Homo sapiens: one gene and its partners. The protein of the gene in region 4 interacts with the protein of the main gene of each other region in a pairwise test. Each region holds a gene or a part of one and is shown on either strand. Other genes may lie near its edges. The genes, in order: BANP, KIF1B, HDAC7, ESM1, AQP1, ANKS1A and FAM124B.

Evidence for each region.
Region 1: the proteins of ESM1 (region 4) and BANP interact in binary tests that used the Homo sapiens proteins (3 or more experiments, as listed by UniProt).
Region 2: the proteins of ESM1 (region 4) and KIF1B interact in binary tests that used the Homo sapiens proteins (3 or more experiments, as listed by UniProt).
Region 3: the proteins of ESM1 (region 4) and HDAC7 interact in binary tests that used the Homo sapiens proteins (3 or more experiments, as listed by UniProt).
Region 5: the proteins of ESM1 (region 4) and AQP1 interact in binary tests that used the Homo sapiens proteins (3 or more experiments, as listed by UniProt).
Region 6: the proteins of ESM1 (region 4) and ANKS1A interact in a two-hybrid assay, tested with the Homo sapiens proteins (one large-scale study listed by BioGRID).
Region 7: the proteins of ESM1 (region 4) and FAM124B interact in binary tests that used the Homo sapiens proteins (3 or more experiments, as listed by UniProt).

The regions. Positions count from the first base shown.
Region 1 is NC_000016.10:88,006,934-88,010,433, reverse strand, and holds part of BANP (protein BANP), read right to left. Parts: intron 1-3,500. UniProt on the Homo sapiens protein: Controls V(D)J recombination during T-cell development by repressing T-cell receptor (TCR) beta enhancer function. Binds to scaffold/matrix attachment region beta (S/MARbeta), an ATC-rich DNA sequence located upstream of the TCR beta enhancer.
Region 2 is NC_000001.11:10,374,570-10,378,069, reverse strand, and holds part of KIF1B (kinesin-like protein KIF1B), read right to left. Parts: intron 3,217-3,500; coding exon 3,024-3,216; intron 2,816-3,023; coding exon 2,697-2,815; intron 1,526-2,696; coding exon 1,483-1,525; 3' UTR 1-1,482. UniProt on the Homo sapiens protein: Has a plus-end-directed microtubule motor activity and functions as a motor for transport of vesicles and organelles along microtubules.
Region 3 is NC_000012.12:47,785,563-47,788,903, forward strand, and holds part of HDAC7 (histone deacetylase 7), read right to left. Parts: intron 2,603-3,341; coding exon 2,483-2,602; intron 2,248-2,482; coding exon 2,150-2,247; intron 1,142-2,149; coding exon 1,023-1,141; intron 324-1,022; coding exon 190-323; intron 1-189. UniProt on the Homo sapiens protein: Responsible for the deacetylation of lysine residues on the N-terminal part of the core histones (H2A, H2B, H3 and H4).
Region 4 is NC_000005.10:54,979,981-54,982,593, forward strand, and holds part of ESM1 (endothelial cell-specific molecule 1 isoform a precursor), read right to left. Parts: intron 2,167-2,613; coding exon 2,017-2,166; intron 1-2,016. UniProt on the Homo sapiens protein: Involved in angiogenesis; promotes angiogenic sprouting. May have potent implications in lung endothelial cell-leukocyte interactions.
Region 5 is NC_000007.14:30,914,853-30,918,352, reverse strand, and holds part of AQP1 (aquaporin-1), read right to left. Parts: intron 1-3,500. UniProt on the Homo sapiens protein: Forms a water channel that facilitates the transport of water across cell membranes, playing a crucial role in water homeostasis in various tissues.
Region 6 is NC_000006.12:34,888,122-34,892,054, reverse strand, and holds the start of ANKS1A (ankyrin repeat and SAM domain-containing protein 1A), read right to left. Parts: upstream 2,801-3,933; 5' UTR 2,653-2,800; coding exon 2,456-2,652; intron 1-2,455. UniProt on the Homo sapiens protein: Regulator of different signaling pathways. Regulates EPHA8 receptor tyrosine kinase signaling to control cell migration and neurite retraction.
Region 7 is NC_000002.12:224,381,653-224,385,107, forward strand, and holds part of FAM124B (protein FAM124B), read right to left. Parts: intron 1-3,455.

The DNA of each region.
Region 1 (3,500 bases), on a different chromosome or scaffold from region 4:
CCACGTAAGTCATTCTACTGCCTGGGAAGTCCATGGGACCAATTCCTGGCAATAATTCAATTAGAATTCAACCACAATCCTTCCCCCACTGAAATGAAGTACCTAACATTTTATGTATAGGATCAGTCACGTTTTGTAAGAATTATCAAATGCATACACAGCAGAAATTTAAACTCTTGATTAAGAACCTAACTAAATCCCTTAATGGACAAACAGATCCCATGCTAGGTCCATTTTAGCTCAACTTGTTTCTCTAACTCAGCTGGCAGCTTAGTCATTGAATGATGAGGCCCCACACACTTTCAAGTACAAAACAAAGCTATGAGCACACCAAGACCAAAACTACTGACAAAAGGCAAGCACAAGAATGAAGACACAGTCTACTGTTCCCTGCTTTCAACAGTCAGGAACTACCGTCCTTATTCCAATGAGACATAGTCTACTGTTCCCTGCTTTCAACAGTCAGGAGCTACAGTCCTTCTTATTCCAATGAGACACAGTCTACTGTTCCATGCTTTCAACAGTCAGGAGCTACAGTCCCTCTTATTCTAATGAGACACAGTCTACTGTTCACTGCTTTCAACAGTCAGGAGCTACTGTCCTTCTTATTCTAATGAGACATAGTCTACTGTTCCCTGCTTTCAATAGCTGAGAGTTAGCGTCCTTCTTATTCTAATGAGACATAATCTACTGTTCCCTGCTTTCAATAGCTGAGCGTTACCGTCCTTCTTATTCTAATGAGACACAGTCTACTGTTCCATGCTTTCAACAGTCAGGAGCTACCGTCCTTCTTATTCCAATGAGACACAGTCTACTGTTCCCTGCTTTCAATAGCTGAGAGTTACCATCCTTCTTATTCCAGTGGAGCGTGTGTAATGACAAACGGAATTACCTAAGTGAAAAAAACTAGAATAAAATGATATGGTATCTTTGCAGTACAATAAACTGACTCCAAATTTGATACAAAACAGCATGTCAATTCACACAAGCCATTTGGAATTCTTAAGAAATAACCGTTTTGAAATCTGTGGTTCTCTAAGACTTAAGGCACTTAAATACTTAAATAAGAAGCTAAGAACAATCTGTCTCCTGCGGCTCCTATTTCTTATCAGGGCCTAAAACAACTAAATAGAAAGACAAGCACACCCCCTTTAGCACTTCCCATATTCCTAATGCTTTCCCTCGTAGAAACTCGCTGATTCACCACCTGCCCAGGTGCTCTGGGACAGAGGGCCACAGGCAGGAAGATGCTGGCCCCATTCTCGGCACATTCGCACCCCCCATGGAAGTGCTGAAGAGAGGACGCCACTACGGGCTGAGATTAAATCTGACATAAGAGACATTAATGGATTGGCTATTTTCCCAACATTTACATACACAGCAATCATTTAAAGGTGACTTCCTCATTTTCACCAAGCCACTATGCCAAATAAGGCAGCTCAAGCAGATATTTTCATAACACCGACCCCACTGGGATATACATTCCCAAGGACAGTCAGTGAAACAGATTTATTACAAAAAATGTTTCCTCCTAATGGGATGAGAAAACAGAATGGCTCTGGATGATGACCTCTCCTTCAAAATAAAGTCAAATTTAAGATGAGAAAAAGTTCTGCAGTTCACCCCAATCCTAACAACCTGTGTTGTACAGCAAAATTATGTTTGATGAGAACAATCAGTGGTAAAGATGGCTATAAAACTCTGCTCAAAGCCTAGCTAAAGAAAAATGTCTTACACAAAACATCAAAAAAACTTAAACTCAGACACAAAGAAAATTTGTATTTTTCCTTATAGATACAGATCAATACTAAGTAAGCTCCAAATTTGATATCGTCTCATAAGTTCATTTAGATTTTTTTGTTTTTATGACCCTGGACTCCCCAGAATTACCAAGTTTTTTTGCCTTAGCTAACACAGTTTCAATCAAACAAACATCAGGCCTGAAGGGGGTGGCCAGATCTATGTGGGGATTTATACAAAATCCACATCCAAAAATAATTACAACAATTAGTCTGTCGTTACTGCAATGTGATTTTCAATTTCTATGAAAATGAAATCAGGAGCATCCCTCCTTTCCTCAAATTTCATGTGTGAAAAACTCCATTGCCCTGATCCTGCAATTAATACATACACAAAAACCTGCACCTCAACGTTCACAGCAGCATTCCTGACAACAGCCAAAAAGTGCAAACCACCCAGATGCCCATCAACTGATGATGGATCAACAGAATGAGGGCCATCCATACCTCGGCACATCACGCAGCCATGAAAAGGAACAAAGCACTGGGCAAAAGCTACAATGTGGGTGATGCCACAGGATTCCATTTAGAGTCAAGGTCCACAACAGGCACATCCACGAGGACGGAGATGAGCTGGGTGCCGGGGCTGGAGGCTGGGAGAATGGAAAGTGACTGTTGATGGGCACAGGGCTTCTTCTGGGGGTAATAAAAAATATTCTAGAATTAGTCCGAAGTGATGACTGTACAACCTTGAGAATATACTAAAAACAACTGAGACGTATGCTTTAAAACAGTCAATTTTATGGTATATAAATTAGATCTCAACTTGGAAAAAAAAAAAAGATCAACTCAACGTCTCTTTCTCTCTTCCCTCCATTCTGCCATCTGAATCCTAGCAATTTGTATTAGAGGTAAAAGCAATTTTTGTGGAAGACATTGTTTTCAATGTTTCAGATACGGTAATGAGTCTTCCTAACAGGAAAGCCTTTGTTCACTAGACAAAGCAACATCGAGTTGCTAGGAAAAATCAACAACTCAGACGCAGATGCAGAAAAACTGAGTTCTTCCTAGTAAGCAAGGAAAACACATGCTTTACAACTCCACGCACAAAGCTAAGTCTGTTTGGTTCTTTCTTTTCTCCACGCTGTAGTCACTGACAGTCATCTGGTCACTTACGGTGACAGGATGAAGGGCACACAGAGGCTCTCAGGGGAAGACGGCTCTGAAAGGCACACTGGGCAGGCCGAGGGCCAGGCGGGAGGGCACCTCAGAGCCCTGCAGGAGAGAGGCCCCCGCTAGGAGTCCAAGTAGGACAAACAGCTTCACATCCTTCCAGATCTCGGGGGAAATGGGCAATGCATCCTGTGCCATGGAACCCGTGGAAGCTGCGTCCTCTAGCCCAGCAACCTGCCTCTGAGAGCCCACGTCCAGACACTGATCCAAGAGACATGAAAACACAGCAGGCCAATGCTAGTTTCAATAACGAAAGGTTAGAGGGGGCCATCCCTGGAAAGCATCCAGACCTGATGAAATAAGCAAAACTGGCTAAAAATGACTCTGTCCATCTGCACTAACGTGGAAAGATTTCTACTGTGTAGGGGAAAGAAGTGAGTTATAAAATCATAAAATGTGCACCAAAAAACCCCAAAAGGTTTAGAGATCTCAGAATGGTGGGATCACAGTTATTTTCCCTTTAATCTTCATGTTTATACTGTATCACTATCTTTTTTTTTTTTTTTTTTTTTTTGAGACAGAGTCTCT
Region 2 (3,500 bases), on a different chromosome or scaffold from region 4:
AGCATCAATGAAAACAACTGCTGGATTCAGAGGGAGACTTCCAGGTTTATGCCTGAAAGCTATATTTCTTTGATCAAAGGGAGCTGTAACAATCACAAGGTCACTACCCAGCATTATTATTTTTTTTTTTTTCTGAGGCAGAGTCTTGCTCTGTCACCCAGGCTGGAGTGCAATAGCGCGATCTTGGCTCACTGCAACCTCTGCCTCCTGGGTTCAAGCAGTTCTCCTGCCTCAGGCTCCCAAGCAGCTGGAATTACAGGCATGTGCCACCATACCCGACTAATTTTGTATTTTTAGTAGAGACGGGGTTTCATCATATTGGCCAGGCTGGTCTTGAACTCCTGATCTCGTGATCTGCCCGCCTCGGCCTCCCCAAGTGCTTGGATTACAGGCGTGAGCCACTGTGCCCGGCCTGCCCGGCATTATCTTAATCATAACAATGACCATCAAGTTTATCACCAGAAAGTGAAACACTCCCGCCTTGTGGAACATTTGTGTATGACATGGCACTAATTCCAACTGTACCACCACCATCACTAATGCCAAAAGCAGAACTGAGACACTCCTAGAAAAGAGCTTCCCTCCCAACAGAGAAAAAACAGTGGGCAGGAATCCTGCTGTGAGGAGCTACAAGCATCCCACCGCCTGCTGCCATCACGGCCCACGGCCAAACCCTGGGGTCCCCTGAAGTCCACCAGAAGCATCCTTGGCATTTCCCTTCACACAAAGTCAAGAGCAGCCACTGTCCCAGGCCCACTGAAAAAGCCTCTCGTCTCCTCTCTACCAGTAAATAAAAATTCCATAATTATGCCGTAAAAAGCCCCAACTTTGACTCAGAATATAACTGTTGCAGTTCTATGCTCACTACCACCTTTTCCCTGAATGGAAATGCAGGGATTAGCCATGGCAAAAAGAGACAGAGGGGAAAAAAAGACTCTTTTTTTCCTCTCAGGTTCTAAAAAGGCCAGATGTCTCCTCCCTTAGTCTCTAAGCCACCCAAGAAAAATTAAAGTGATATCACAAACAGAGAAAAGAAAAAAAAAGTATGTTGTCTTGAAAAACAAAGGTGCCTGGTGACAGCAGCACAGACATCAGAGGTGGTCATGATGGGGACCTATCATACAAAAGGAAGCCAAAGTACACCCACAATAATTTGGAGATTCACCAGATCCCCTCAGAGTTTTTGTGTTTTTGTCTGTGTATGTGTGTGTGTGTGTGTGTGTGTGTGTGTGTGTTTAAAAACATTTTTTCCTTTTGTTAGGCCACATGCTACTAACGAGATTCTCAGCACAAGAAAAAAGAAAAGAGTACAGAGCAATGGAGATGGGGAACGGGAGAGCTAGAAAAGTGCTGGACAAGGAGGGAGAAGTAGTTAAGCCACAGGATTACATACAAGAGTCACCGTCAAGAATCACAAAGAGAAATGAGAGGTAACGCTTTCTTTATCTCTCGAAGGCGAGTGAGGGCACTCGGCAGAGTCACTTAGTATTTCGACTGGCTCGGGCATCTGCGGGAAAGCTTTGACCTATGGGGGACAAACGGGGAGGTAGGATTAGAAGTCTGGGTACAAGTCTTGTCCCCTCACAGTCCTCTCCCTCTGAGGCTCCCTCCTGGAGCATCTTCCTATTTGGCACCGCAGGCCTAGTCCTCTAAGCCGTCTACTCCGGGACCCTGTGACACAAGCCCTCAGAACGTGAGGCTGAATCACAGGGCTGGAGGTTGGGAGACCATTAAGGTTCTCACTGTCCTCCCTTTACTCTCTCCCCTGAGCCCCATCTTTAGAACTCTTGAGAACAAAAAGACAAAGAAGGAAAATAATTGGTGCACATGTGTGACCAGAGTATCCCTGGTGGTTCAGAACATGACAATGCCTTACAAGATGCAGAGGCCTCATTACCACCCCACAACCAATTTACACTCCTGTCCTTCCTCTCTTTTAAATTTATTTTGAAAAATACTTCCTTTCAAGCCAGATGTGGTGGCTCACGCTTGTAATCCCAGCACTTTGGGAGGCCGAGGAGGGTGGATCACCTGAGGTCAGGAGTTCAAGACCAGCCTGGCCAACATGGTGAAACCCCATCTCTACTAAAAATACAAAAAAAAAAATTAGCTGGGTGTGGTGGCGGGCACCTGTAATCCTAGCTACTCAGGAGACTGAGGCAGGAGAATGGCTTGAACCTGGGAGGTGGAGGTTGCGGTGAGCCGATATCATGCCACTGCACTCCAGCCTGGGCCACACAAGAGCAAAAACTCCATCTCAAAAAAAAAAAAAAAAAAAAAAAACAAGAAAAGAAAAAAGAAAAGAAAAATTCTTCCTTTCCTATTTATCCTGATATTCCTGAAGCCAAAAGCCAAAGAGAGAAAGAAAACACAGAACAACTTCTAGGCTGGGTGCAGTGGCTCAGGCCTGTAATCCCAGCACTTTGGGAGGCTGAGGTGGGTGGATTACTTGAGGTCAGGAGTTTGAGACCAGCCTGGCCATTGTGGTAAAACCCCGTCTCTACAAAAAATACGAAAATTAGCCAGGCAATGGTGGCACGTGCCTGTAGTCTCAGCTACTGGGGAGGCTGAGTCAGGAGAATCGCTTGAACCAGGGGGCGGAGGTTGCAGTGAGCCAAGACCAAGCCACTGCACTTCAGGGAGAAAAAGTGAGACTCCGTCTCAAAAACAACAACAACAACAACAAAACTTCTTACCGTATTGTGCCAGCTAGAAGTGGGTTGAAGGCATACAACCAGTCGTTCATGTCTTTGTCATTGAGGGCCTGCAAAAGGACCCCACGGTGCTTTGTGCAGACAGCAAAGGTGTTTGGTGTCTGAAAGAAAAATGCAGGTAGACAAGAAAGTTACTACAGAGACAGCAATGGGGACTGCCTTGCCATATTCCCAAGGCATATAGCACTTCACAAAGGAAGTTCAAAACCAGAGAGAATAGGGAAATTTCACACCACGTAACAGAGAGTGCAGAAATCAAAAGAGAAGGGCACACGTGGCAATAAGAAACCAAGGCAGGGCAGGACGGACCTTCACCATGGCCTGCTGGTCCTCACTGTACTCCACCTGTGCTGTGGACAGGTTAATGATTCCACGCTCCACAGGGTCTTTGTCACTGTTATAGATGAAGACATAAGGCCGACGGACGACAACAAAATGTTTAGCCCAGTTACTGTAAAGAGGCTCCTTGAAATGAAGGTATCCTTTCTTAGAGACCACTGAGCTAAAAACGACAATATGACAAAAGTTAGTTTCTCACAAAAAGAAAATAATCGTGCTGAGGACCATCAAAATACGCCACACTTAGGCCAAGTCCTTAGATTCGATGAAACAGGCAAATGACCTATTTGGCCTAGAATCTTATCTGCCAAAGTAATACGGCAAAAGCGAAACCGTGCCATGGCAACATGCTGCGCCAGGGTGCAGATGCATTATGAGACCCAACTGGAGAAACCCAGGCTGGCCCTCTCACCCCAGACTCAACTTGCATCAGACTACAGTACAGAT
Region 3 (3,341 bases), on a different chromosome or scaffold from region 4:
GCACACTCTACCTAGGCCAGGAGATGCTGCCTGGACCTAACTTGGAACAGAGGCTTCCGCTTCGCCTACCTTGTTTCAGGCTTGGCCACTCCCACCCTGTCCCATCCCATCTGCCTGCTCCTTGGGTAGTCCTGAGAGCCGGGCTTACCTGCCTGACAGAAGCATGGATGGGGGAGGGAGACGGCTCACCCTGTTACCCAGAAGAGCAGCCACACAGGCCTCAGAGGCGTCACAGATGGCTGTGAGGTCATGGCCACCCTCCAAGGCCAGCACCACTGCGCCTCCTGCCAGGTTCATCAGTTGCTGCGTCATGTATCCAAAACCTAGAGGTTGGGAGGGGAGAAATGGGAGGGGCGGGAGTGGAGAGGTGACCCTGTTCTCTACCCCTGTGGCTTCCCTGCTTGCTTCCTCCCTAATAAAGAATGACTCACATGTATCAATCACTATTTCCAAAGTGCTTTCACATTGAATGTCGTACAAAACCTACTAGTATGCTTCACTCAAGGCTCAGGGAGGTTAAGGGCCTTGGGAAAGGCCCCACAGCTAGTAAGTGGCAGCAAGGTAGGACCTGAACTTGGGTCATTGACTCTAGCCTGTGTCTTTTTCACTGAGCTACACCCTCTCTTCTTTCTGTACTCTGGGCCCTGTGGCCACCCTCTATTCTGAGAGTGCTGCTTCTCTCTCCCCTTCCTCTGGAGGAGCTGCCAGCCCACCTGGAATCAACCCAGCTGTGGTGGGGAGTCCCACGGCTGAGCTTCCTGCCTACTGGACTTAAGTCCCCATGGGTATGACCTGGTCAAGCCCTCCGTGGTGAACCGGCCTGGTCCTGAGAAAGGGCTTGGGCTGTGCTCGGCTAGGAGATCCCGGGGAATTTCAGGACCAGCTGCCATACTCCAGTCCTCAGGCTGAAAGCCCTGGGCTGGCCACTGCCACCTTCCCTTTCTGACTTGGGAGTGCCTCCCAACTCCCCGCACCGCCTGGCTCTCTGTCCCTAACGTCCCCCTCAGCTGAGGCTCCCTTACATTTGGCAGAAACATGGTAGCCACCCAGTGGGGCCGGGTGACCCTCAGCAGCATCAAATCCAGCAGACACCAGGACTAGGTCTGGAGAGAACTCTCGGGCGATGGGCATCACGACTATCCTGTGAGGTCACAAGAAGTGGCGATCATCGTACTGTGCAGGGTTGCCAGGGGCGGTCCTGCCAACTTTGCGGTGGGGCACCCTGTTCTTAGGACTCCAAGGCTCCCAGTGCCCCAGCACAACTGGCAGATTTCTCTGACCTCCTTGACCTTGGCTGGCCACCCATGTCCCTGGCACACACAGCCTAAGGACTCAGCCCCCTAGGGGACTTAACTAGCAAGAGGCAGAAAGGAGCCAAGGATGGAGCACCAGAGGGAATGAAAGAGGAGTGTGTGTGACCATGTGTGTGTGCATGTGTGTGTGTGCATGCAAGCATCTGTGGGGTGCAGTGGCCGGAGCCACAGGGAAAGGGTAATCTCACAGCCTTGCGGAGATGGACTCTGGTCACAAAGCTTCAGGGACTACAAGTGCTCAGTCCTTTGGACTGAGTTGACCACACCCAGCTACTCACTACTTGAGAGCTGAGTAGGGGACAACTAGGTCCTCTGAGGTTCTGCGCCACCTGGCTACATTCTCTCATCCTCTCCCTCTTCCAGGCCCCCCCCCAGCTGCCTTCCTCTACCCCTGATCCAACTCTGGGGCCTGCTTGGGTGTTCTTCATAGCCCTGGGCTCTGAGAAGACTCCAGGAACTCCAGCCCAGGGCTCTCGTAGAATTAGCTGTCATGGAGATAACTCCAGAAAAGTGTTTGAAGATCCATTTCCAGAATTCTCTTTTCCCAAATAGAGTGGCAGCCTTCTCTGACTAAATGTGCCAGCTCTGCTCACTCCACCACCCACCTGCCAGCAATCAGTTTGACATTGGCTCTCGGTAATGTATGCCTTTGCAAAGCACCCTTTGACTTTTGCATTCTTCTCTCTGTTTGTCCTATTCTCACTGGCGTTCACCTACAATGTCTAGGAACTGGTGGGGACAGGCTGACAATCCAACTGATCACCTCCCCCCTGGTGCTCTTGGGAGAAGGGACAGGAGAGGGTGGACTTGCCCCTCTGGGCCCCCAGAGCACGTACCTGAAAGCAGCCAGGTACTCAGGATCCCCCATGGGGGGGTCCAGACCTCCAGCCCAGGCCACATTGACATTGAAGCCCTCACCGCTGCCAGCCCCTACCTGGAAAACAGGAGGCAAGAGAGACATGAGGACAGCAGAGTCCCAGAAGGGGAACACCAGTTTGTTAGAGCTGCCAGCCCAGCTCATCCAGCCTCCCCATTTCCAGGTGGGGAAGTTTAGGATCAGAGAGGCTCAGCAGTCTGCCCAGGATCACACAGCTCGTCATGACAGAGGCAGAGTAAGTGTCAGGAGGAGGTCAATGAGGCTGGAAGATGTGGCCCTGACATGCGGTTACCTCATCCACAGCCCCACTCCCCGGGAAGAAGTTGCCGTCGTCATGGCGATGCAGGGAGATGTAGAGCACACTGGGGTCTTGGTAGAAGGTTTGCTGGGTGCCGTTGCCATGGTGCACGTCCTGTGTAGGGAGACGGGCAGCGATTAGGGAAGGCAGAGAGATGGGGGCCAGGACAGGTTAGAAGGGTTTCAAGGTCAGTGGCCATTCTGAGGTCAGGACCCTAGACTGGGATCAGGAACCTGGGGTTCCTAAAGCCACACGGTCGAGTGGCCCCACGTAATCCACTGCCCGGCTCTGAACCTCGGCCTCTCTGTGCTGGACAGGGCTGGCTGTAATATGAGATCCTGAAGGAGAGGAGGTGTCCCAATCTCAGGCCAGCCCACCTGAGAGAGTAACTGTGTGGACATGGGGTTAGTGGCAAGGAGAGGGAAGGGTTCAGGGTTACACATATCAGGAACCACTCTGTCTTGCATAAAGTCATGAAGTTATGAGGAGATCAGAAACCAAGCTCGGTTACAGAGGGGCAGGTACACGAGGCCCAGCCCCATCCCTCGTAGGGAGAGCTGGGCCCTACACTCGACTCACAGGACCATGCGGGAACTCAAGTGTGCAAAGGTCCTCCACCGCTCTCAACTTCTGCTTAGAAATGTCTCTTACACAGCTGTCAGTGCAGAAGGGACATAGCTTAGCAGTTAAACGCAAGCACTCTAGAGCTAACCCGCCTGGGTTCAAATCCATCTCATGACTTACGAATGACTGTGTGTGAGTTACTTAATCTCTCTGTGCTCACTTTCATCTGTAAAGTGGGTTATAGTCAGGATTAAATCCATCATGTGTAAAACCATCAGTGTCTGGATGT
Region 4 (2,613 bases):
AATTTGCTAAAATGAAATTTTCTACTTCAAGGAGTAGTGAGGTGTGCTTGCTTTGGCAGTGCACATTCTGATGTGGAATGCTTTAAGAAGATTAGCGTGGCCCAGCAGACGAATGTGTGTAAGTCCATGAAACATTCCAGATCTTACTCCCCCAAGACCCTCGTACACAAAAACTTACTTGTGAATTCCCAACTTGGGAAGCTCACTGCCAAAAAAAAGAACACCAAGTGGAACACTGTGGACAGGAAGCACATTTGACAAGAGTGCTGTAGCCAGCAGGTGGAAAGTTGGAGAAGACAAGCTCGTGCTCTGGGGGTCCTAGTGCTGGTGAAGCTTGCAGCCATTTAGCCTGCTCTCAAAGGCTGGGCCCAAACAGGTTTGTGCAGAGGTGATGTGAAGCCTGTGTCAGGAGTGAAGCCCAAGCCTTCTCCTGTAAACTCCAGTGCATGAACCTGGAAGTCTCATGTAGTCTCAAAGACACATGTAGACTACAAAGAACCCTAGGCAGCCTCCCCAAGAGGTCCTTAGGGTTTTCTGCTCTCCATCCTGAACCTGACTAAGGTTTACCAAGATCACACTAAAAATCATCTTTTGCTGGTTGCACCTTTAGCTAATGAAAGGAAATACCCTAGGTCAGAAAAGAGAGAAACTGACTGCTTTTTTCAAATATTTCTGATAAGAATCTCAATGCCTAACTTTGATGTGGAAATATTTTTGTGTAACCTATAATGTAAGTATTGTTATGGGCATCACCATACTTAAAACTAATAATTCACTTAAAAGCACGATATTTCCGCTTCATTTTAATGTGTTTAGTTGACCCATACATAAGAAGGAGGTAAAATTAGAAAACAAGCACCTTTGCCAAATAGTTTATATTTTATTAACTTGAAATGCAAAAGACCAAAAGCAAAAACTAAATAAAATGGACTTGAATTGTTATTTATAGTTGTGGTGGGAAAAAGTATATCATTTGTTGATACTAGCCATCTCTGTGACTATATGTTGGGCTTATTATTTATTTATTTTTTATAATTTTAAATACAGTTTTTAATTGACAAATAATAATTGTATACATTTAGGGTACAATATGATACTTTGATATATATCTCCACTGTGGAATGATGAACTCAAACTAAGTAGCATATCCATCACCTCATATACTTATTTTTTGTGATGGGAACATTTAAAATTTATTATTTTACCAATTTTGAAATATATAAGAATTATTAACTACAATCGCCATTCTGTGCAATGGAGGCCTAAGCTTTAGTGATGTATGTTGCTTTAAATGAGCTACTTTCAGTTTAATGGAACTCTCCTGTACTGGCCAGCTATTCAACAAAATAAACAAATATGTACATAGCACCATCTCATAGGTTGTGTATTCCTCACATTCTAACACCTGTATAAGAAATACACACGGACTAACAAGCAGCACGTATTACTACAGTTTCATTCATTTCCAAAATTTCAATCACATACTATTTCTTATCCTCTCCAAAATCCATAAAAACACACACTTGGAATTATTACACTTAAATGCTTTCATTTGGTTAAAAAAAAGAAACGTTCTATATTTTCTATCTTGACTCTTAAAGCTTATCCAATAAATTCCTCACAGTACTTTTTCTATGTGAAGTTGGGAGATAAATAGTTTTGTCTAGTAAATATATAAAACAGATCACTGAAGAATTTAAAGAACTTTGTGTATCTCAGTTGGTTATTTTTTATTACAGATTTTTGGTAATCAATCATATTTATCCTCCTATAAATCATATTTAAACCAGGTAAACTTTATGAGAAATTATATGTAAACCTCAAAATTATTGATGGGCTCTTTTTAGAAAACAGCAACAGCAACCAAACTCAGCTACCACCCACCGTTCCCCTGAGTAAAGCAAAGGAAATAAAATCATTCCAATCCACATCTTATTCTACTCACAGATATTTTCTAAGTTATTCACACTGAAATGAGACTATTCTTCCAATGCTTATACCAGAATCAGTGCTTACCCGTGAGAGAAACAAATCTGTTGGAAGACTTGGTTACTGAATATTGGAAGAAGGGGAATTTCAGGCATTTTCCCGTCCCCCTGTCACAGATGCCTGACTGGCAGTTGCAGGTCTCTCTGCAATCCATCCCGAAGGTGCCGTAGGGACAGTCTGGGGACAAAGGAAAGGTTGGAGAGGACGCTGCTTGTTGTAAATACGTCTCCATCCTAACAGCCCTGGGTGCATAGCCTTGCGATTTGAACCAACCTCATGAACCTTGACTGTAAAGTAAAATCCAATTCTCCAAACCCAGGATTTGAAAGTTGAAACTTTGAGTCATAAATATGAAATCACACATTAAGAACAGATAATGGATGCCTCGGGCTTAGTGTTGTGATGTAAAGTTAAGTTGAAGACAGCTACACACAGCCAGTCTCCTTGGACCAGTCTTCATTCTGGTGATGTTCTGCTTAGATACCAATAAATTCTCACAGATGACCTCTGTAACAGCTCAGCAAAGGTGGGAAATTGAACAGACATATATGCATCAGCTCCTCAAAGAGTTTTTAAAATGTGATGCTATCTTTGAATCTACTGTATTCACAGATAATTTACTAT
Region 5 (3,500 bases), on a different chromosome or scaffold from region 4:
TTGTTAGATTGTAAGTGGTTTATTACACAATAATTACATTTTAAAAATCTATAAAAGAACTGGCCAGGCGCGGTGGCTCACGCCTGTAATCCCAGCACTCTGAGAAGCCAAGGCGGGTGGATCACAAGGTCAGGAGATCGAGACCATCCTGGCTAACACGGTTAAACCCCGTCTCTACTAAAAATACAAAAACAAAATTAGCCGGGTGTGGTGGCCTGTGGTCCCAGCTACTCGGGAGGCTGAGGTGGGAGAATGGCATAAACCCGGGAGGCAGAACTTGCAGTGAGCCGAGATGGTGCCACTGCACTCCAGCCTGGGCGACAGAGTGAGACTCCGTCTCAAAAAAAAAAATAAAAATCTATAAAGGAACTGCAAAAATCCCCCACTTGTATGCACCAAACAACATAGCCTAAAAATAAATGAGGGGAAAATTGACAAAATTACAAGGAGGACTGGATCACCCTACCACCAGAGTGAAAAATGTTAACAATCTTCTATTAGAAATGTACAGAATAAATGAAGCAGCCGAAAACTACCAATAACATGATCAGGGAGGGTTTGAACCCCATAATTAACAAGCTTGACTTCAGAAAAATATGAAAACCCTGTACCCCTGAATTAGAGAATGCACACTCTTTTTCATCAACTGATGAGGTACTGACCAAGTGCCTCGGCCTCCCTGGGAACAGCTATATCATACAGGCATCCCTGCAGGACATGAGGTCCTGGAGGCTGTGCTGTGTGTTTGCACTGGTATGTCTGATGGCACTTCTGGGTGCCTCACTGTCTCCCTGTGTCACACACCCACATAGCTGCCACTACCAGCTAGAGAGGGAAGAGAAGAGAAAAAAATGAGCCCCCCATGTGAGAAAGCAGCAGGTCTCAACAAGGCCTTTATTTGCTCCCAGAAGCCATTTCATCTTCCTGACAAGAAACAATACACAAAGCAATGGCTTCCTCCCTCCCTCCCTCCTTCTTTTCCTAACTCCAGGGCAGGGAGAGGAAAAGGCTCCATTGAGGAATCCCCGCCCAACCCTCCTTGGGTCCCAGAGTCTGAGTGGGACCACCCAGTCTTGAGAATGTGCTTTGTGTACCATGTGTGTGTGTCCTCCACGTAAGAGCACATGTGTGTGCATGTTTGTGTTTGTGCCATGTGTGTACACTTTGGAGCAGCAGGAATAATCAAGGGCTAGGAGGCAGTGCCACCTTGACAAGTCTCCACGCCTCTGTGGGCTTCAGTTTCCCCATCAGTAAAATGGAGGCCTTGGCCCAGATTCGAGCCCCCGCAGTCTCCAAAAGTGCCTCCTGCCTCACATCGGGGTGGTCACTCTCCAGCCCCAGATCCAGAAACCTAAGCACAGGATCCCCCGCAGGCCATCAGAATTGCTGATCTCAGCATGACACAAAGCCTATGCTGCAGAACCTGTCACCCACCCCACTGGACCCCCGCATAGACTAGCACCCCCAAAGCAGCCTCCTCACCAGAAAGCATCTACTTGCACACCCCTAATGGCAGGGAGCTTATTGACTTAGAGACAGCCCCTTCTTCGTGTCAACAACAATATCAACAACAACCTTCTTTACACTGAGTAGAAATCTGCCTTTCAAGGGGCCCTGACAGCGAGATTGCAGGCACTGAAAGGAGCTGCTGGAAGGGCCGGGGGCATTTTCCGGCCTTTCCGGATATCTTTTAAGTTGGAGATTTCAGCCTCAGAGTCTGCCCACCCCACAGAACTGTAGCTCCTGGCTGAGTGAAGACAGCCCCTCATGATCCCCCTGGGCACCACTCCATGTGGGCAAGGAGCCCCTCTCATCCCCATGGGGAAGCCCTGACTGAGGGGATCCTGGCCACTTGCAGGGCCTCGCGGACAGCATTTTCCTGCCTTCACCTCCCGGTGTGAGGGCTCAGATCCCAGCCACTCAGGAGACTCCAGACTCATTGGTGCTTCCAGAAGGTAAGGGCCATGGCCCCTGCTGGGTGGGGGCCCTAGACTAAGTGGGGGTACCATCTGGAATTGGCTTGCAGTGAGCTAATGGCCACTTCATGCTGCTAGAAGGTTGCCTGGGGTGGAGAAGGGAAGGCAAGGTGTGACAGGAGGCTGTGGCCTGGGAGTGGTGAGCAGGGGGTGAGCCCCTCAGACAGGTATCCCAGGAGGCCGTGTCCCCTCTCAAAGCATGGCCCCTTCAGAGTTCCCAGGGCAAATCCCAGTCAGGGCCAAGCATCAGGGTGGGCAACACTGGGACCGGCTGGGCTGTTCTGAGGTCCCTAAAGGGGAAGCAGCGTCAGGATTTTCCATGGTGAGGGAAGTCTCCACCACAAAGCTCCCCATCTCTGTGCCCTCCCCCTCATCTGGGGCTGGCGGAAACAGTAATTATATGTCCCAGATGTGGCATCACCACCCAGCCCCCAGCCCCTCCCTGGGCAGGACGGGCTGGGCAGGGACATGGAAACTCTGCCTTCCTTTCCCCATCCCTCCCCTGAGCTCTGGAGGAGGCAGCAGCACCCCCGGGAGAACTGGTGGCATGAAGAGGCCTCTCACTCTATGACTGGGGAAACTGAAGCCCAGAAAAACGGGATAAAGGGGAGAACTTAGGGCTTCAGTCAGGCCCCTGATGCTGCAGGTAGAAACACTTCTTGAGCAGTCAGGCCTGGAATTAGCAGGGCTGGGAGAAGACCCCGAAGAGGGTAGCTTTGCCCTCTGCCTGAGCCCAGCGGGCTGAAATCACAGGCTCTGGGAATCCAGACCCCTTCCCCCGGATGCAGCCCCTGGCCCGAATCCTGAGCCCTCACCACCCTCCTCCCATGCACCCCCAGCCTGACCATACCCAACAACTCCCGTACCACGGCCCTCACCTCCTCCTAGCCTGTGCTTGCTCACACAGTCCCTCTGCCCCTTCCCTCTGCAGTGTCTCCACATTCAGGCTCCTACGAAACCTCCTCCCTGATGCCTTCCTGGCCCTCCCACCCCTTAAGTTCAAAAGTTCCCGGGCCCGCCCTGACACCTCTTATCGCATCTGCCTCCTGCTTCATATCACAGGCAGCTGGGCACTGGCTTATCTTGACCTAGGGCTGTGGGCTTCTCTCGGGAGGGAGCCGGGCTAACCCAGCCCTGCATTGAGCACCCAGCAGTCCCTGGTCATGCTTGCAGGGAGCCGGCTGAGCAGACCAGACAGCAGAAGAATGAAAAAAGCCAGCAAATGCCAGGAATCCTGAGTCCACCAGCATCTCCTACTTCTCAGAGCCCAGCCACACCCTGCTATGTCCCTATCTCATAGACAGGAACTAGGGCCACACAGGCCAGTCTGTTGTGTGATGCCACATGGTGTTAGTGGCTGAGCTAGGACAGGGACAGGTGAGAGTGTCCACCCCAGCCTCAGAGCCTCTCACCCTTAGCCAAAATTGGTATTTGGCTCTTAGAACTAGCCGGGACCTTGCAGGCTGGACGGAGGCCCACGGTCTCTCTAGGGCATATCCTGAGCCCTGAGTCAGTCAGGAGAAA
Region 6 (3,933 bases), on a different chromosome or scaffold from region 4:
CCAAAGTAGAAGCATTGTGCTCAACAGGTTTCCTAGTCTTGCTTAACTATATTAACTATATGGCAGTTAAATCCTCAGCAGAATTTCAATAGTCTCCGAGTGAGCGCACTAAGAATAACTTGACCTGAGGCCGGGCAAGGTGGCTCACGCCTGTAATCCCAGCACTTTGGGAGGCCGAGGCCGGCGGATCATGAGGTCAAGAAATTGAGAACAGCCTGGCTAACATGGTGAAACTCCATCTCTACAAAAAATACAAAAATTAGCTGGGTGTGGTGGCGCTTGCCTGTAGTCCCAGCTACTTGGGAGGCTGAGGCAGGAGAATCGCTTGAACCCAGGAAGGCGAAGGTTGCAGTGAGCTGAGATACTGCCACTGCACTCCAGACTGTGGACAGAGCGAGACTCCGTCTCCAAAAAAAAAAAAGAATAATTTGACCTGTGTTTGAGGGTGGGAGATATGAGAAACTTCTCACTTTAGCAGGATATGCTGAGGGTTAAGATATCTCTGGAAAATCTCCAAATGCTATGTCATCAACTCATTAAAGACAGAGGCATCTCCAAACCTGTACAGTCTTGTCACCTCTCAGACATCAGAACTGCAGAGTGGCAAATCCAGGTAAGATTCAAAACCCAATTCATGCATTCACTGTACATTTATTAAACACCTGTAAGTTGTCAGGCACTGATCTAGGGACTGAGAATATAAACATGATATATGGAAGTATACCCATCCATTATTATTTACCTTTATTATGCCCAACCTCTCAAGGGTGCAGGCAGGAAGTTCTTCTCCTGTTGCCTAAGGAGCACCAAATAAGTCTCCATTCTCATTTCTGTGCCTCTGATCATGGGGTACCCACCTGAAACATGCCCATCATAACTCACCTACCCAAATCCTCACATCCTTCAAGGCCAGCTTAAGTCTCCCTCCTTTTGGAAGCCCTGACTTCCACTCCATCCCTAAATGATGTCTCTGTTCTCTGAGCTGCTAGCAATTACAGCGAGTAATACCATCCACCATCCATTTATTTAGAAATTTATTGTCCTGCAACTGATACTTTTATTTCTTCAACAAATCTTAAGTACCTACTTATATTGCTTTTTAAAATCTTCCTGTAAAGACCTGGGTTGGTACTCAGTGCTTAATATCTATTAATAACAATTTATTAGCGCCTTAGGCTTATATGGTCCAAGCTCACTCAAACTGAAGTTACATAAAGTAATGGGGAACAAAAGCTAACGAAGGCATTTCTAAATGAACTTCCACTTCTTAAAAACCTCAAAAGAACAAGGAAGGAAAAAGAAATCAGGCTATGAAAGCGCTGCTGAACTAACACATTTAACTCACACTAACAAAGCACCCCCAATCCCCCTTCGAAGCCACACAAAACTGATGTTTTTCCCTCGGTCCTTACAGCTCCAGATTGAAGCGTTTAACAACAGACCTTGGAAAAGTTTACAGCATCCTTCGGTTTCCTAAACAAGTCTCTCTGCCTTTATTTCTAGATGAATAAGCCCCTGGATGAATCCTGCATATGCCACTTAGACTAATCCAATGAGGTTCACTACAAGGAACTACAATTTGAACTTCAAGCACAAGAGAGGCTCAAAGACGAACATCTTGAAAATGATACATCCAGAGGCAATTTTAATAAAACAAAAGCGAGGGGCCAGGCGCGGTGGCTCACGCCTGTAATCCCAGCACTTTGGGAAGCCGAGGCGGGCGGTTCCTGAGGTCAAGAGTTCGAGACCAGCCTGGCCAATATGGTGAAACCCCGTCTCTACTAAAAATACAAAAATTAGCCTGGTGTCGTGGCGGGCGCCTGTAATCCCAGCTACTTGGGAGGCAGAGGCAGGAGAATCGCTTGAACCCGGGAGGCGGAGGTTGCAGTGAGCCGAGATCGCGCCACTGCACTCCAGCCTGGCTGACAGAACAAGTCTCCGTCTCGAGGGAAAAAAAAAAATAAAGCGAGGTCCTGTGTAGCCTGGTGGAAGGTTCCAAGTTCCTCAGAGAAGAAAATCAATAGAATTTCCTCCAGAGGAGCCTCGAGATTCTACAAGGCGTAGGAGTTTCTGCAGGAGGTGAGGGAGATCTCATATATATATATATAAGATATACATATTTGCTCTTAATTGGCTTTTGTGAGCTACGATAGCTGGCACCCTGTAGCGAGCGAGAGTGAACCCTGGCTGTGCCATGCGGCGGAGGCTGCCACCTGGGCACTCCCACCATTCTTCGCAGCCGGGTCAGAACGGGAGACCAGGCGAGCCCGGAGCAGCGTGGACTCGGACCTGCGCGCCCTCCGGTACCCTGGCCCGCGGGCCGCCTGCCTCGCCCCGGGCACGCCACAAGCCCACCCCGCCCGAGTCTCAGGACCCCCGATCTCTCTGGGGACCCAAGAGACGGGTGGGGGAGAAAGGGTCTGCAGGCAGCGGCCCGGCCCTGGCGCGTACCCACCTGAGCAGACTGGAGAGGGGGTGGCTGGAAGAGCCGAGGCCGCCGCCGCCGCCGCCGCTGCCGCCGCCGCCGCCCCCAGAGCCACCGCCGCCGCCGCCCCCAAAGCCTGAGGAGAGCCGCTTCCCGGACAGCAGCTTCTCCACCGCCGGGAGGTGCCCGGTGCGGGCCGCCTCCAGCAGCTCCTGCTCCTTCCCCATCCCCAGGGCCGCCACCCGCTGGACCCCCTCCCCGAGGCTGCAGCCGAGCCTGCTCGGGCTCCCAAACTTTCCGTCTCCGGGCAACGCACCCCCCAAACCGGCTGGGGACACCACCCCCTCCCTGCCTTTTCCCCACGAGCGCGTCACTTCCGGGATCCGGCGTCACGCGTCACCGCGCCCCCGCGCCCCGCCCCCTAGCTCACCTAGCTGGGCGGGGCTCCGCGGACCAGCGCAGGTGGACTTTGCTGTGCCGAGACACGCCTCTCGGGGCATGGGGACAGCGCCTTGTGGGCCCCCATTATGCAGGTGGAAAGGGACAAACAGGCCCACCTGTACGCGCCTCCCGAAGTGCGCTCCTTCCCCAAAGGTTTTGGGAGCTCCTGGGACAGGAAATACGGTAATTCGTCCAGGCAGCGTAGAAACAAAGAGATAAATGTAACGCGCACCTACATTTCCAAGTCCATTCTTTCAGCACGCATAAATTAAATATGTAATAGGTGCGGGGACCTAGTCATACCCAGGTGAATAAAACGCCCTCCCCCTCGTATCTCAATGAGGGAAGAGAAGAAAATTTTAAAACAGAAATATCCTCACCACTTCATCCTCCCAGTACGTGAACTAGTTCATTAAAGTGAAACGTTCAAAGGAGACACCTTCCTCTCTTTAGGCTTTCCTCTTAGTTTTAATGAGATTAACCAAACTGATAGAAAAGTGTCAGACTTGTAAAAACAAACCTCAATCTTCAGTACTGGCGAACTGAAAAAAATCATTTAATTGGGTAGAAACTATGTGTGTTTTGTTCCCTGGTACTAGCACTGTTTCTAAATCGAAGTAGGCAGTCAATAGTTGTGGATGAATAAATGAATTGGATAAATTCTGCTCGAGCTATATGACTTTTTGTTGTTAAGGTGCTTGCGGAATGGAGGGGAAATGCTAGCAATTCTATGTACACACAGGCCCGCGGTTTCGGGCCAGTTGAAATATACAAGGTTGAGTCCTTGCCTGAAAGTTTACCAGTCCCGGGGAGCCTCATTCCACGACACCGCCATACAACGGAACTGAGTTTTCTCCCAGTCCCCCAACTTTACTCTGAGGGGTTAACGAAGGGATTAACTGACATTGCATTTTTAGACAGGCGAAAAGGAAAAAGTTATTTAGTAAACAAAACTGCGCTCCTTCACAAGTGCTGGTTTCCTAGCGAGGAGGATCCATAGTCTGAGCTCTTTACGTCCAATTTTCCCGCTTCCCACTGTCGCCAAACCAAAGTTAAAATGAGTCCTC
Region 7 (3,455 bases), on a different chromosome or scaffold from region 4:
CAAGAATGAACCCTAATGTACCCTATGGGCTTTGGGTGATGGTGATGTGTCGTTGTAGGTTGATCAGTTGTAACACATGTACCACTCTGATAAAGGATGTTGACAGGAAAGGAGGCTCTTTTCGGGGGGAAGGTTGTATATGGGAACTCTCTGTTCTTTCTGCTTAATTCTGCTGTGAACCTACCACTGCTGTAAAAAATAAGGTCTATTTCAAGGGAGAAAAAATAATGATACATATTTATCTTACAAGGCAAGAAGGCAGAAATGAGGACAGTGAGAAAACAGGTCTAGAAATCAGTAAATTCTCTCTCTCATACACACACACACACACTCACACAGAGCATATTTGTTTGTATAGATGACGCAGAGTACATCTCAATTTTCTGATAGAAATGGTGAGGTGCATATTACCAAGCTGCAAAAACAAACACACAAAAAAACAAGGACTTCCACTGATTCTTTTAGAATAGAAGTTGGCAAATATTTTCGGCAAGGAGCCAGACAGTAAATATCTGAGGGTTTGCCGGCCATATGGTCTTTATCCCAACTATCCAACTCTGCTGCAGAGCAGCCATAGACAATATATAAATGAATGGCTGTGTTCAGTAAAACTCTATGTATGAACACTGAAATTTGAATCTCATATTTTTTATGTGTCATGAATTTTTTTCCAACCATATAAAAATAGAAAACTATTTTTAGTTCTCAGGCCACAGTTGACCAAGCCCTATTCTAGATCAATGATTCCCTGTCTTTTTTTTTTTTTTTTTTTTTGAGATGGAGTTTTGCTCTTGTTGCCCAATCTGGAGTGCAATGGCGCAATCTCAGCTCACTGCAACCTCCACCTGCCAGGTTCAAGTGATTCTCCTGCCTCAGCCTCCCTAGTAGCTAGGGTTACAGGCATGCACCACCACGCCCAGCTAATTTTGTATTTTTAGTAGAGATGAGGTTTCTCCATATTGGTCAGGCTGGTCTCAAACTCCCAACCTAAGGTGATCCATCCACCTTGGCCTCCCAAAATGCTGGATGACAGGAGTGAGCCATCTCTCTATCTTAAGAAGTTTTTTTCCAAACAATTTCTTACCTGGAAGCCCAAAATATGAAGCAATCTAATTAGCGCAGCCCTGGTTGACGTACAGAGGGTAGCCTCTGCCTACGGGACCCCCTCTCTAGTTCCCCAGGGCTTCACAGAACCAGCTTGAAAACCACTATTCTAGAATATCTAAATTCTACCCCTGAGCCAAGCCAGTTCATTAGAGCCACACACACCTGAAACCCCTATCGCAGATGTGCTTGCACTGAACCACAGCTGAGTGCAGTGCCCCAGAGTGTGTTGAAGAGAGCTTCCACCAGCATCAGATACTCTCTCTAGGGGCGACACTGTTGAAGGGATGCCCACTGCACCGAAGGACCTGTCCTTATGCAAACCCATAGGAGAAATTTCTGTTCCCAAACTTTGCTGCACAAGGGAACATCCTGGGATCATTAAAAAACAATGATGCCTGCTCCCAGCCCATGACCTCCTGATTTCATCAGGTCAGAGTACACCTGGCTGTCAGAGCTGATAAATCTCCCCCAGTAATTCTAATGTGCAGCGAAGTTTCGGAACTACTGCCATGGACCCAGAAAAGCTAGGCTTCGAGTAGTCAGTTAACTTGCGGTCGTTGTGAGTCTGTTTCTTATCACATACACCCGACCTCCTCCTCCATATTTCTGAAAAATTCTTTGCCTAATTTCATTTTGCTATCTCTCTCTACATTTCCCTTTGCTCTAATTCCACAGCTCCGCCCTCCCTCCCCTCCTTTCTTCCTTCTCTCCTTCCTTCCTCCTGCCCTTCCTTTCCTTTCTTTCCTTTTCATCTGTTTGTTTTTTTAAAAAAGTCTTACTATAAAAGTAGTAATTTATCACCATAAAAATAATTTCATTGTACAAATGTATAAAATAAAAAGTAAAGCCTTCTCCCTATCCCAACCTCAAATCACCCCCAAATTCTCACTTTCCAATGAAGACTATTTGCTTATCCTTTCAAAATCAGGAGGAAAAAATACTATCTCCGAAATGTCAGCTGGGGTTTCCCTTCCCCTGGAGAACAAACTCCCTTAGTCCTTCAAAGGGCCAACTGCCATCATTGCCTCTTGGAGAATCATTTGACACTGTACCCTTGTATCATAATGTACCTTTTTAATTGACCCAATGACATCTTTTTCTTCTAGAAATGGAAACTGGCATGGATATTTCCATACTGAGAAATGGTTCAGGGTTGATATTAGATTATCCAATCTGGAGAAAGAAATCAATAACTTTGACTCTGGGGCTTGTATTTCATTCTCTAGCAACTGTGAACACAGAGAGAAGCCTGAGTAATCGCCCCTTGCCATCTAAATCAATGTCAGATCATAATGAAATTGGTCCTGAAGCCCCAACCAGTGCCGAGACATCTCAGGGCAGCCAGGAAGCGCCCTCCTGGGCCAGCCCAGCTCACCCCTCCACTCCCCTCTGTCACCCAGTCCCACAGCCCCTCCACTGGGCCTTCTCCACCTGCAAATGTCCCATCTTTGAAAGATTCTATTTAAGCCAGGCATTCTGAGGCCATGGGCTCCGGCACTCAATTCCCCATCACATCTGCTCTTCAACATCAACACTCCCAATCCCCAGCTTCTCCCTGTCAGCCCCTCCCATCCACACTGCCTTTCAGAGTCAATTTGAGTCCAAAGACTATCACTTCAACCATTTCTTCACCAATACCTCCAACTCCCCTCACTATTCCCATTCTGTCACAGACTCCCACAAAATCTCCCCACCTTTCATCCATCTACCTGCCCACATTTTCTGAACATGTGTTCAGGATGCCACAGAAACACATCGGTCTGTGAAATGGGTGCCCCATGATGGCGTGGTTTCCGGCCTCTCCCAGGCTACCCGCCAGTCTGCCTGCTTCCTTAGTCACCTCTCTCCATTCACCCAGCAGCTGTTCAAACCTTCAAAACTGTCCTGAAATCTTCAGCAGCACCATCGCCCCCACTCTCTCTCATCAGGTGGTCTCACCATCCAGATTATCAAGGAAGCAGATGCTGTCACCAGTTAGCAACACTCTCACTGCTACCGCGAAACTTACCTGCAGCTTCACCATTCTCTCTAGGTGAAAGTGACCGGTCCCTGGGCCAAGACTCCCATCACCTCCCGCCTTCTTGGTGACCCTGACCTATCAATTATTCATTTTTCCCACTTTCTTATCTTGGATGTTTAATCTCTCTCCCTCTCCTTCTCTTTCTCTCTCTCTGCCTATTCCTTTCCAACAGCAATTAAACTTGTTCAAGTCTCGTGTCTTGAAAAACACATTCTTTCCACCCTCTCTTTCCCTCCAGGTTTCTCTGTCCTCCCCTTCACTGTCAAACCTGTATATAAAATTTGTGTAGTTATGTTTTTCTACAAACCTCCCCTTATTTTCTCTACCC